Regions from separate parts of the Homo sapiens genome. Here region 2 is linked to region 1. A link means that fine-mapping ties the variant in region 1 to the expression of a gene that starts in the linked region. Tissue or cell type: breast. Region 1 holds a variant in brackets; the other region holds the start of a gene. All regions are shown on one strand. Distances are between the middles of the regions.

Evidence for each region. PIP is the estimated chance that this variant, and not a neighbour inherited with it, causes the effect.
Region 2: it holds the start of LGALS4, and the variant in region 1 is fine-mapped to the expression of LGALS4 in breast (GTEx, PIP 0.97).

Annotation. Positions count from the first base shown.
Region 1 is chr19:39,386,557-39,394,774 of GRCh38, forward strand. It overlaps PAF1 (PAF1 component of Paf1/RNA polymerase II complex), which reads right to left and starts at 4,550. Exons shown (of 14, transcript NM_019088.4): 1 at 4,262-4,550; 2 at 3,704-3,733; 3 at 3,513-3,605; 4 at 3,084-3,205; 5 at 2,924-2,990; 6 at 2,726-2,827; 7 at 2,537-2,642; 8 at 2,391-2,459; 9 at 2,206-2,309; 10 at 2,004-2,120; 11 at 1,783-1,911; 12 at 138-243; 13 at 1-16. The coding sequence starts at 4,308. It overlaps MED29 (mediator complex subunit 29), which reads left to right and starts at 4,822. Exons shown (of 4, transcript NM_017592.4): 1 at 4,822-5,082; 2 at 5,908-5,966; 3 at 6,997-7,081. The coding sequence starts at 4,867. It also overlaps a transcript of SAMD4B not described here. RefSeq lists a silencer at 3,208-3,339 and an enhancer at 4,877-5,166. The variant G/A (reference allele first, on the strand shown) is at 6,685.
Region 2 is chr19:38,810,291-38,815,074 of GRCh38, forward strand. It overlaps LGALS4 (galectin 4), which reads right to left and starts at 2,655. Exons shown (of 10, transcript NM_006149.4): 1 at 2,552-2,655; 2 at 2,141-2,229. The coding sequence starts at 2,596.

The DNA of each region.
Region 1 (8,218 bases):
GGGCCTTCCGTGCCTCCTGGAAGCAGCAAGATTGGAATGAGGGGAAGGAGGGTGTTCTGCTGGGTTTTTGTCCCCCTCCTCACCTACAACCACCACCCTCCCTGCCATGGGTGCCCTGAGCCAGTGGTGCTTGTTACCTGAGCTTCCAGTTCCTTCTCATTCATGTCCCGATGTTTGACCACAAGCAGGGCGTTGGTGCCTGACTGAACCCCAGCCTTGGCCCGGCGCTTACTAAGGCGGACCCTGCAGGGGGTGAATTTGGGAGAGAGAAGTGGAAGATGCAGTTAAAGACACACCTCCCACTTCCCCGCCCCCCAGTGAGGGGTCTGGTCTGACTTGGTTCCCCATCAATACTTAGAGTAAATGGGAATAAATACAGATTGAATAAGGGCAGCTAAGCTCAAGGTATTGAGGGCAGGGGAAAGGAAGGATGGCTCCCATGGCACCAGTTTGGTTGCCCTACACTGTGTGTGTGTGTTATACGGTGTATTTACATAAATACGGGCATGGGCCATTTAACAGGGACACATTCTGAGATATACATCATGTGAACATCATACAGTACTCTTACACAAACGTACATAGTATAGCCTACTACATACCTAGGCTGTAATGGTGTAGCCTATTGCTCCTAGGCTACAAGGTTGTACAGCATGTGACTGTACTGAATACTGCAGGCAATTGTAATACAATAGTAAGTATTTGTGTATCTAAACATAGAAAAGGTATAGTAAAGATACGGTATTCTATCTTAAGGGACCACCATAAGCAGTCCATTGTTGACTGAAACATGCAGTGCATTACTGTATGTGTCAGTTAGTTACCAACACTTTGAGAAACCAGGAGATGTCAAATCATTTGGATTTGGGGCTTTTGGAAGATAGGAATTTCTGGCCCCACAGCACAGCAACAGTGGGCTGGAAGTGAATAGTGCCCTCCATGGTTGCCCAGAACTCCAGGTCACTCAGATGCTACCAGCCACTGCTCTTTTACATTTCCTGCCTGGCCTATGGGGTCACAGTTCTTGTAATCTCTGCTTTAAACAGAAACTCAAGACTTCCCAACTCTACACCAGAGGTGCTGGCATAGCAGTAAACTTTGAGCCATAAGGGAAGAGTTTTGGAGTCACATTTTTGAACATGGGTTTAAGCATTTCATTTAAAACATTCATGCTAATTTTATATATTACTCCATACTTTGGCAATGTTTACTTTCACATGAAGTCTGTTACTAATACTGGGAAACTTGGCCCTCTGCCTTGCGCAAAGGCTCTAAATGTCTCCTGCATTAAGATATTCTGGCTGGGCGTGGTGGCTCACACCTGTAATCCCAGCACTTTGGGAGGCCGAGGCAGGCAGATCACCTGAGGTCAGGAGTTCAAGACCAGCCTGGCCAGCATGGTGAAACCCCATCTCTATTAAAAATACAAAAAAAATTAGCTGGCCATGCTGGCACACGCCTGTGATGCCAGCTACTCAGGAGGCTGAGGCAGGAGAATCACTTGAACCCAGGAAGCGGAGGTTGCAGTGGGCTGAGATCACACCACTGCACTCTGGCCTGGGCAACAGAGCGAGACTCCATCTCAAAAAAAAAGATTTTTTTTCTGGCTCCTCCTGTTAGAACCAAGTCCAGCTCATGTGCATGACCAGACATCTGCTGCTCTTGTTTACCAATGCATATGACAAATTCTTAGGTACAAATGACCTCCAAGGTGGCTCTTGCATGCCCCAGGGTCTTAAGAAGCACAGATCCAGGCTAATCAGATAGGAGTGTGCTGAGTACCTGGTTTCCAACTCATTGTAGTAAACCCCGTCACCCTCTCGGAAGATGAAGAAGTAGTTTTCCTCATAGCCCTTGCTAGCTTTGTTCTTCACGTTCCAGTTGTACTCCCGAGCAATTTTGTAGTCATACCTGAAGATGAGGGCACAGGTTCAGCCCCATTTCTTCCCTATCCCAATCCCCAAAACTTCCCAATCCCCAAAACTTAACCGCAACCCACGCACACATCATCTGGTGCATAGTCCATCTCCTCCTCCTGGTCCCGCTTTCGTTTCTTCAACGTCTCTTCTACAGGCAGGAAATAGGCCACAAACTGGTTCCCTTCCTCATCCATCATGCCCCTGGTTGGGGGAAAAGGAGTAGCAATGAAGTGTGAGGACAAGAGGCAGCAAGGAGCAGGCCAAGGTGGACAGCAGGACCACCTACCTAATCATGGCCTGAGACATCATCTCCAACGCAGCTGCACCACTCGTGTCCTTGGGGGCTGGGTCTGAGTCAAAGATCACCTGAGCACATGGATTGATCCACATCTAGGGAGATGGAGGCACTGGGGTTAGATGGGAACAGGCACAAATAGGCTGTCCCTTTCTACCTCCCACCTTGGGCCTGACCTTAAAGTCTGGGAAGACAGGCATGACCTCCACCGGTGTGACTCGGGGTTTGCTGTAATGCTGTGAGATCTGGTGGAACAAAAACAAGGTGAGGAGGAGCTCTGCAGCCGCACCCTTGCCTCTCCCCATCCCAGTCCCTCAATTACTGATTTCTGGGCATCCTCAAAAGTCTTCTCAATGGCTGTGATCTGGCTATCCCTGTCTTTGTATATTTCTTCCTCGGTAAACTGCTGCTTCACAGAAACCCCAATCCTAGGAATGAAGAAAAAGGTCCTTAGGGGCCACTGGACACACCTAATATCTCCACCTTCCCTCTCTTCCTGTTAGTAACTTACTTGACCTCAGGCTTCTCATTGGAGATGCCATAACGGTTGAACTCAGTGGAGATGTACTCTGTCTTTCGCATCCATGGCACCACCTTCGCGTGCTGCTGGGATCTGGGGTGGGAAATCAGGTATCTCAGGACCCCACTGCCCTCCTGCTTGTAGGGCCCACCTGAGCCAGTCTCCAGTACCCATTTGCTACCCACTCACCTCTTGGAGCTGGTGGGGGCCTGAATCTCCTCTTCCAAAAGTTTCTCATCAGCTGGATCTAGAAGAACTAGAGGAGAGCGGGGGGCAGGAGGACCATGAGGGAGGCCCAGGCCTGAGCCTTTGCTGACCTAGAGCAGACCCTCCCTGTCTCCCCACACACCATTGGGGTCGATGCGGTAGGTGTCAGGATTGATGAGATCGATGGTGACCCCCAGGTCTGGCTCAGTCAGGAGGTCATGTTTGTGCTGTTTCTCCAAGGAAGTGGCTTTGTACTGGACGAACCTGGGTGGGGAAACACCTATTGTGGTGTTTGGATTCCAGCTTCACCCCTCACAGCCCTGCTTCCCAGAGGCGGAGCTTCTCTGGGGAGGAACTCAGAATGAAGTGTCCCCCATGGCAGAGTCTGAAAGCTGGCTCCCCAGTGGGAAGGGACTTGGACACTGCTTGCTCCATTAACAATTGAGCAGCTACTACTATGTGCTAGGGTAGGTACTGTGCTAGGCCCTGAGCAGACAGCAGCCAACGAGACAAGCAGTCCCTGCCTTCAAGGAACTCATACCTGAGTAGTTTTCCCATTCCTTAGTCTCACCTGTTCTGGTCGAAGGGGTAGGTGATGAACTTGGGGTCGAAGGGGATATCAGGGAGGCTATTGCAGTACTTGACTCGGCAGACCACTCCAGACCTAGGAACATTAGTGGCTCAAAAGTGGGCCCCCGCTGCCCCACCTCTGCTCCCAGCCCCACTGCCCCACCGCTCCTGGGAAAGCACAGTGGGGCTCACCTCTCAGGCAGAGTCCGGTGGGAATTGGGCCTAGTGGAGAAGAAAGAAACAGTGATAGGTGGAGAGGACGGGATTGACAGGAGAATGAAAAAGGCTTCCCCAACCTTTCAAAAGGTAGGAGGGGTGACAAATGCTGGTTTCTTTGGGTGGTGGTGTGGGGAGTGTCCAAATGCTTTAATGGAAGGAGACAAATGTTCAATTTATTTAGGAAGAAATGCCCCCAAAAGCTTTAATGAACAAGGCCAAGTGCTCAATCCCTTTTGCAGGAGATGGCTTCAAGTGCTTTAATAAAGAACCATGTACTCAATCGTCTTCGGAAGAGGGGTCTCCAAACGGTTGACTGGAGGGATCCCTTCTGGAGGGAGTCTCCAAAAGCCTAATCCCTGAACTGCACGGCGGGGAGGAGGGGAACACCTGAATCTCAGAAGGAACCCGCCCCCTTCGTCAAAGGTGAGCGCTTCATGACGTCACGGGCAGACCTGGGGGCTGGTGACGTTGTTCAGCAGAAACCCTCTCCCGATCCCCCGCCTTGCTGCAACAGAAAAGCGTGGCGCCTACCTGTGGCCATCCTCCCGCTGGGCCTGGGTCTGGATGGTGGGCGCCATAGCGACGAGGCGACGGCAGCCCGGACGGGGTCCTAGCGGGACCGAAGGGGGACGCAGAGGGGCGTGCCGACTTCAGGGGACGCCTGATCCGAGGAAGGCCCAGCTTGGCGCCGCTCCCCGCGGAAAGTGGGTTGAGATGAGGTGGGCGGGCGAGAAGAGCTCCAGCGAGACTCAGGTGAACGCGCAGGCAGCACCGGGGACGGACTCGAAGCTCCGGTTCCACCAACTGCCGCCAAGACGCTGAGGACCCAACGGGTCTCCTCAGGCCGCGACGCCTTCGGGGAAATGAAGTCCGGCTCGGAACCACACACGGATTGGCGAGCGTCTGGGTGAAGGGCGGAGCGAGGGAGAGAGGTGCTTCTGTGATTGGTGGAGAGATATCTCAGTCTGGACGCAGATTTGAGAGTGACGTAACGTTGGGGCACCTCCTTCCCCTCCATTGGCTTAATTGCCTAGGGGGCGGGACTAACTAGCAAACGGGGACTAGAAATAGGGATGCTGAAAAGCAACGGGGAGAGACGCAGTCGTAACGCACTTCCGGCGGTCTACGCGAGGAAGATGGCTGCATCCCAGCAGCAAGCTTCAGCGGCTTCCTCAGCTGCTGGTGTATCGGGTCCTAGTTCGGCTGGCGGCCCGGGTCCCCAGCAGCAGCCGCAACCGCCAGCACAACTGGTGGGCCCTGCCCAGAGCGGCCTCCTGCAGCAACAGCAACAGGACTTCGATCCTGTGCAGCGTTATAAGATGCTCATCCCGCAGCTGAAGGAGAGTCTACAGGTGATTGGCCTTAAGCAGCGAGAAGCAAACTGGATTTGGTAGTCTAGAGGGGCAGGCCGAGGGCCAGGTTAGTCGGAGAGAGCGCTAAGCAGAAAGAGGAATAGAACCTGCTGTTTTGGCCTGGCTGGTGCACGCCTGTGTTCCCAGCACTTTGGGAGGCCGAGGCGGGCGGATCACTTGAGGTCAGGAGTTCAAGACCAGCCTGGTGAAACCTCGTCTCTACTAAAAATACAAAAATTAGCCGGGCATGGTGGCGCGCGCCTGTAATTACAGCTACTCGGGAAGCTGAGGCAGGAGAATCGCTTGAACCCAGGAGGCGGAGGTTGCAGTGAGCCGACATCGTGCCATTGCACTCCAGCCTGGGCAACAGAGCGAGACTCCGTCAAAAAAATAAATAAATAAATAAATAAAACTGTTGTTTTCTGCGAGACCTAAGCGAAGCTCGGCAGAGATGGGATCAGCGCTGATGCTGAGGCTGGGACTGGCCGGAGCTTGAGTGAGGGGTTGTTTAAAGGAGAAACTGGGCTCTGGTCGTTAAAGCCTGAGGAGAGTACTGGCTTATACGGAGATTCTGCCCTTGATTGATAGGTGAGGGAGGACCCTTAGGTTATTGGCGAGAAGCTCAGGTGAGAGCGGGCCTCTGGGAGGATGGAGTGGTGACAGCTATAGGAATGGAAACGAATATTACTTTGGAAAGTCAGGAGGGAAGGTGCCAGTTGAAAAGAAAACCTGAGACTGAGTGATCTCAAGAAAGAGTGTAGATCTGCCAGAGGTATTCCCTTTTGTTTTTCCATTTCCCACGTGTTTTGTTTTTGTTTTGACTAGACCTTGATGAAGGTTGCGGCCCAAAACTTGATTCAGAACACTAACATCGACAATGGACAGTGAGTGCAGCCCCCTTTACCAGGATATTCTATTGCCTTCCCAGTCTTTGAAATTCATCTTTCCTTCTCCTGCTCCCCGCCCACCTCACCTTCTATATTTACTTTTTTTTTTTTTTTTTTTTGAGACAGGGTCTCCCTCTGTCACCCAGGCTGGACTACAGTGGCACGATCTTGGCTCATTGCAGCCTTGAACACCTGAGTTAGGAGATCCTCTTGCCTCAGCCTCCCAAGTAGCCAGGACTACAGACATGGCTACAGACTACAGATGCCTGGCTAATTTGTAAGATTTTTTTATAGAGACGGAGTCTTGCTATGTTTCCCAGGCTGGTCTCAAACTCCTGGCCTCTAGCCATCCCCTCAGCCTCACGAATCACTTCTCCTATTTTATTTTATTTTTGTTGTTGTTTTGTAGAGACAGGGTCTTGCCACGTTGTCCAGGCTGGTCTCAAACTCCTGGGTTCAAACAGTCCTTCCACCTTGGCCTCCCAAAGTGCTGGGATGACAGGCATGAACCATCATGCCCAGCCTTTTCCTTTTCTTTCTTTCTTTCTTTCTTTTCTTTTTTTTTTTTTTTTTTTTTTTTTTTTTTTTGAGACAGAGTCTTGCTCTGTCGCCCAGGCTGGAGTGCAGTGGTGTAGTCTCAGCTCACTGCAACCTCTGCCTCCCGGGTTCAAATGATTCTCCTGCCTCGGCCTCCCAAGTAGCTGGGACTACAGGC[G/A]CGTGCCAGCACATCTGGCTAATTTTTGTATTTTTAGTAGAGATGGGGTTTCACCATGTTGTCCAGGCTGGTCTTGAACTCCTGACCTCAGGTGATCTGCTCGCCTCGGACTCCCAAAGTGCTGGGATTACAGGCGTGAGCCACCGTGCCCAGCCTCCTTTTCTTTTTTTTTGAACCCCTCCGGTTTTCAACCACTACTTCAGATCTCCTGGACCTGTACCTGGTTTCCTGATGGACACTTGGTTGGGTAGATACTGGTGTCCCAAAGATTAGAAATCAATTCTTCAGACATCCTTTTTTCCTTGTCTGTAGAAAGAGCAGTGATGGACCCATACAGCGCTTTGACAAGTGCCTGGAAGAGTTCTATGCACTCTGTGACCAGCTGGAGCTGTGCCTGGTAAGAAGCCTTCTGGACACGGGGTAACAACAGCCGTGTCCCAGTCTCTGGGGTCTTCAGAAACAGTCAGTCAGTCAACTCACACTCAACTGGGGACCTCCTGTGGGCCAGACCTGTGCTTCCACCAACACTGAGGACACAGGGTTGCTCTGATCCTTGCCCTTGCAGAGCTTTCAGTTGAGTGGAATAATAAGCACACCCCTAAACAGTGACAGCTCAGAGTGGTCAGTGCTGTGATGGGAGAAGCCTAGGCCAGAGTGGTTAGGGTTATGATTGAGGAGGCACAGGCAGAGGGATCAGGGCTGGGATGGGGAAATCTCAGTGTGGAAGCCCAGGGTGGGGATAGGGAGAGAGTGGCTTAGGGAAGGCTACTGCTAGACAGCACATCTGACCAAGTCTGAAACAAAGAAGAGAAGAGGGGCAGGAGTTGAGAGGAGGGTAAGTGACTAAGAATACAGCCTCTGGAGTCAGATGCACCATCAATCTCTACCTCTGACCTCTGGGTTCCTCCTTAGGAAAACGGAGTTTCCAGGAAAACTTAGATTATGCGTGTAAACTGCTTAACATGATACCAGGCATATGGCAAATGTGTACTGTAGTATCATCATTATTTTGGACTGGTTTTTTTGGTGGGGGGGTGTGGGGGAGGACAGTCTCACCATCACCCAGGCTGGAGTGCAGTGGCACGATCTAGGCTCACTGCAATCTCCTCCTCCCAGTTTCAAGCGATTCTGGTGCCTCAGCCTCCCAAGTAACTGGGACTATAGGCATACCACGCCTGGCTAATTTTTGTATTTTTAGTAGAGATGGGGTTTCACCATTTTGGCCAGGCTGGTCTTGAACTCCTGGCCTCAAGTGATCCACCCGCCTCAGTCTCCTAAAGTGCTAGGATTACAAGCATGAGCCACTGCACCCGGCCTTTTTTTTTTTTTTTTTTTTTTTTTTGAGACAGAGTCTCACTCTGTCGCCAGGCTAGAGTACAGTGGCGCGACTTCAGCTCACTGCAACCTTGGCCTCCCAGGTTCAAGCGATTCTCTTGCCTCAGCCTCCTGAGTAGCTGGGACTACAGGCACGCACCACCACGCCCAGCAAATTTTTGTATTTTTAGTAGAGATGGGGTTTCACCATGTTGGCCAG
Region 2 (4,784 bases), 580 kb before region 1:
GATTACAGGCACCTGTCACCATGCCTGGCTAATTTTGTATTTTCAGCAGAGATGAGATTTCGCCTTTTTTTTTTTTTTTTTTTTTTTTTTGAGATGGAGTCTCGCTCTTTCGCCCAGGCTGGAGTGCAGTGGCGCAATCTTGGCTCACTGCAAGCTCCGCCTCCTGGTTTCACGCCATTCTCCTGCCTCAGCCTCCCGAGTAGCTGGGACTACAGGCACCCGCCACCATGCCCAGCTAATTTTTTGTATTTTTAGTAGAGACGGGGTTTCACTGTGTTAGCCAGGATGGTCTCGATCTCCTGACCTCGTGATCCGCCCGTCTCTGCCTCCCAAAGTGCTGGGATTACAGACGTGAGCCACCACGCCCAGCCAGATGCGATTTTGCCATTTTGGCCAGGCTAGTCTCGAGCTCCTGACCTCAGGTGATCTGCCTGGCTTAGCCACCCAAAGTGCTGGGATTACAGGCGTAAGCCACCATGCCCGGCCAGGCCACCCTATTTAAGGGGACAATTTAAAGGGAACCTCTGTCCGCACATACACTCCCCATCTCCCTTCCCTCCTCATTTTCTTCATAGCACTTAATATCATCTGACATCTTACATATTTGACTTTTTTTTTTTTTTTTTTTGAGACAGAGTCTCACTCTTGTTGCCCAGGCTGTAGTGCAATGGCACGATCTCGGCTCACCGAAACCTCCACTTCCCAGGTTCAAGTGATTCTCCTGCCTCAGCCTCCTGAGTAGCTGGGATTACAGGCATGCGCCACCACGCCCTGGTAATTTTGTATTTTTAGTAGAGACAGGGTTTCTCCATTTTGGTCAGGCTGGTCTTGAACTCCCGATCTCAGGTGATCTGCCTGCCTAGGCCTCCTAAAGTGCTGGGATTACAGGCCTGAGCTACCGCGCCCGGCCTGGACTTATTTTTTATGTTTCCCCTACTAGGACATCAGCTCCACGAGGGCAGGGGTCTCTGTCCTGTTCACTCCTCCATCCCTAGTGCCAGGACACAGAATAGGCACTCAGTGAAGAAGTAAACAATAAATAAATAAACAACAGGCTGGGCAGAGTGGCTCATACCAGTGCCTGATCCTCCCAGCACTTTAGGAGGCCGAGGCTAGAGGATCGCTTGAGCACAGGAGTTCAAGACCAGCCTGGGCAACATAACAAGACTTTGTCTCTACAAAACAAATAATAATAATAAATAAAAATTAAAAATTAAATTAGTTGGGCATGGTGGCACATGTCTGTAGTCCCATCTGCTTGGAAAGATGAGGTAGGAGGATCACTTTAGCCCAGGAGTTGGAGGCCGAAGTGAGCTATAATATTGTGCCACTGCACTCCAGCTTGGGCAACAGAGCAAGACCCTATCTCTAAGGAAAAAAAAAGTCCTATGAGGCCAATCATTATCAACGTGTTAAGGCCCTTTTTAAAAAGCTAAGACTGGGCCAGGCGCAGTGGCTCACGCCTGTAATCCCAGCACTTTGGGAGGCCGAGATGGGAGGATCACTTGAGGTCAGGAGTTCGAGACCAGCCTGACCAACATGGTGAAACCCCATCTCTACTAAAAATACAAAAATTAGCCAGTGTGCTGGCACATGCCTGTAATCCCAGCTACTCAAGAGGCTGAGGCAGGAGAATCGCTTGAACCTGGGAGACAGAGGTTGCAGTGAGCCAAGATCATGCCATTGCACTCCAGCCTGGGCGACAAGAGCAAAACTCCATCTCAAAACAAAAAAAAAAACAAAAAAAACAAAAACAGAAAAGAAAAGAAAATGAAGCACAGAGAGGTATAGTCACTTTCACTCTTTCACCAACACAGAGCTGGGGAGTGGCAGAGCTGGGATTTTAACTCGGGGACCCGGCTCTGAGCCTGTGATCTGAATTCCTGCCATTGCACCCATCAGCTTCAGTCTAATGTCCAACTCAGGGACTGCCTCTCACGGTGAGCCCTCCCTGAACCTTCTGGCCCCCACGTCCCCACTCCTGATCTGCCCCAGATTCATCTCTGGCTATTGGGTGGGGCAGAAAAAGAGTCCCCTCTCCACCAGGGTGGGGTAAGGGCAGAAAGCCCCCAACAGCCAGGCCCAGAGCACCCAGTTGGAAGTCCCCTGCCAGCCCGGCCTGGCTTGGGGAGGGTCTTACCGCTTCATGTGCTCGCTGGCCACTCCTTGGATGTAAACAGACATTCCCACGTTGAGCCCGCCCGGGATGGGCTGGTAGTAAGGCAGCGTCTGGAGAAGAGGCCTGGTGAGGGGACTCACAAGCCATCTGCCTGTTGCAGCCTTTACCCCTCCCAGAAAAGCCCCCCAGTCCCTTAAGCAGGAGAGAGGAAACCATGGGGGAGGACCAGGTTGAAGATGACGAGGGCCAACAGTTAGACGTGGACACAGACAGCCTGAGGTCAGGGTAGGAGTAAATCGAGGGTCGGGGTCAGCTTTGGGTAAATCAGACCACAGAGTCAGATGGGGCCCCCCAGGATCAGAGTGGGGAAAATTGGTGTGAGGGCTTATGGACGGAGCTGCGGGCGGAGTGGGGCCTGAGCTGGCATCTCACCGGGTTGTAGGTGGGCTGGTAGCCCGGTGCGGGGACATAGGCCATCGCTCGAGGCTGCGCTAGTGGCTGGTCCTGTGAGAAGAGCTGCAGGAGTGGGAGATGGTGGCGGATGGCAGGCGGTGGTGGCTCTTATACCCAGGGTAAGGGAGTGGCTGGCAGGGGAGGGTCCACAGGGCTCCTCTTCTGGGACTCTCAGGCTGTCGGCTTCTCCTAGAGCGCACCCTAGTCTCCCTTCCCTTGCCAGCTTCCCTGGTGACCAGCCAGGACCCAAATCACCTGGGTCCCCTCCCCTACGCCCTCCTGCAAAGAGGAAGTGCTCATGAACTTCGGCCCTGCCAGGGCCTTATCAGAGCCCATAAAACCCTGCCCAGACTTCTGTTGGCAGAGGGAGGGTGAGACCAGGCAGGGCAGGGCAGGCTGCAGGAATGACCCAGGACAGGTGGGCAGCGGAGGAGGAGAACGCGGAGGAACTGCAAATTCCTGCCTCTCCCAGCAACTGTGAAGGGACCTACGTTGATTGCGTGCCCACCACACATCTTTACCACGTATGTTGTATTGTAGGGAGAGTGGTTTAGATTACTAGTGTGTGGAGCCAGAGGTTCTAGGTTCAAATCCTGCCTTTGCCACTTCTCAGCTGTATGATCATGGGTCAGTGCCTTACCCTCAATTTGCCCATGTGCTCATCTGTAAAATGGGGATATAGTAGTATCGGCTGGGTGCAGTGGCTCATGCCTGTAATCCCAGCACTTTGACTGGCCGAGGTGGATGGATCACCTGAGGGCAGGAGTTCGAGACCAGCCTGGCAAAATCCCAGTCTCTACTAAAAATACAAAAATTAGCCAGGCATGGTGGTGGGTGCCTATAATCCCATCTACTTGGAGGCTGAGGCAGGAGAATCACTTGAACCTGAGTGGAGGAGAGTGCAGTGAGCCAAGGTCACGCCACTGCACTCCAGCTTGGATGACAGATGGAGACTCTGTTTCAAAAAAAAAAAAAAAAAAAAAGGAATTCATAAGAGAGGAAACAAGTATTGAATAGCTATCAAAATATTTTAAAAATGAATTTGTGATCCAGTAATGCCTGTATGTTATTAATCTGCCAAATAAGTTCTAGCTGTGGGTCCAACTGCCACTCAGAAAAATAAATAAATAAAGAAAAGAGTAGTATCAACCTTAGGCTGGGTGTGGTGGCTTGTGCCTACAATCCCAGCAATTTGGGAAGCTGAAGCAGGAGGACTGCTTGAGCCCAGGAGTTCAAGACCAGCCTGGGCAACATAGTGAGACCCCCATCTCTACAAAAATAAAATAAAAATTAGCTGGGCATGGTAGCACACATCTGTATTCCTAGCTACTCAGAGGCTGAGGCAGGAGGATCGCTTGAACCCAGGAGTTAAGGTTACAGTGAGCTATGATCATGCCACTGCACTCCAGCCTGGGTGACAGACTAAGAGTCCGTCTCTAAAAATAGCAACAATAATAGTCATAATAATAATAATCATAATAGTATCAACTTCATAGAGTCCTTGATCATTAAGATAATAAATGCTCAGAACAGGACATAGCATATAGAAGTCATTAACTTAATGCTTGGTCTCTTGCAGTCATTCCAAACATAAATCCGGAAGATTGGGATGATATATGGATAAAAAATCCCAAAGTTTTGTTTGCTCATTTTTGAGACAGAGTCTTGCTCTATCACCCAGGCTGCAGTGCAGTGGCACCATCTCAGCTCACTGCAACCTCCACCTCCCAGGTTCAAGGGATTCTCCTGCCTCAGCCTTCTGAATAGCTGGGATTACAGGCTTACTCCACGCCTGGCTAATTTTTGTATTTTTAGTAGAGACCAGGTTTTGCCATGTTGGCCAGGCTGGTCTCAAACTCCTGACCTCAAGTGATCCACCTGCCTCAACCTCCCAAAGTGCTGGAATTACAGGCATGAGCCACTGCACCCGGCCAGAAACCCCAAAGTCCTTTTTTGTTTTGTTTTTTCTTTTTTTGAGACAGAGTCTCACTCTGTCACCCAGGCTGGACTGCAGCAGCATGATCTCAGCTCACTGCAAACTCACCTCCTGGGTTCAAGGATTCTCCTGCCTCAGCCTCCCGAGTAGCTGGGACTAGAGGCACCTGCCACCACACCTAGCTAATTTTTGTATTTTTAGTAGAGACTGGGTTTCAACATGTTGACTAGGCTGGTTGCAAACTCCTGAGCTCAGGCAATCCACCTGCGTCAGCCT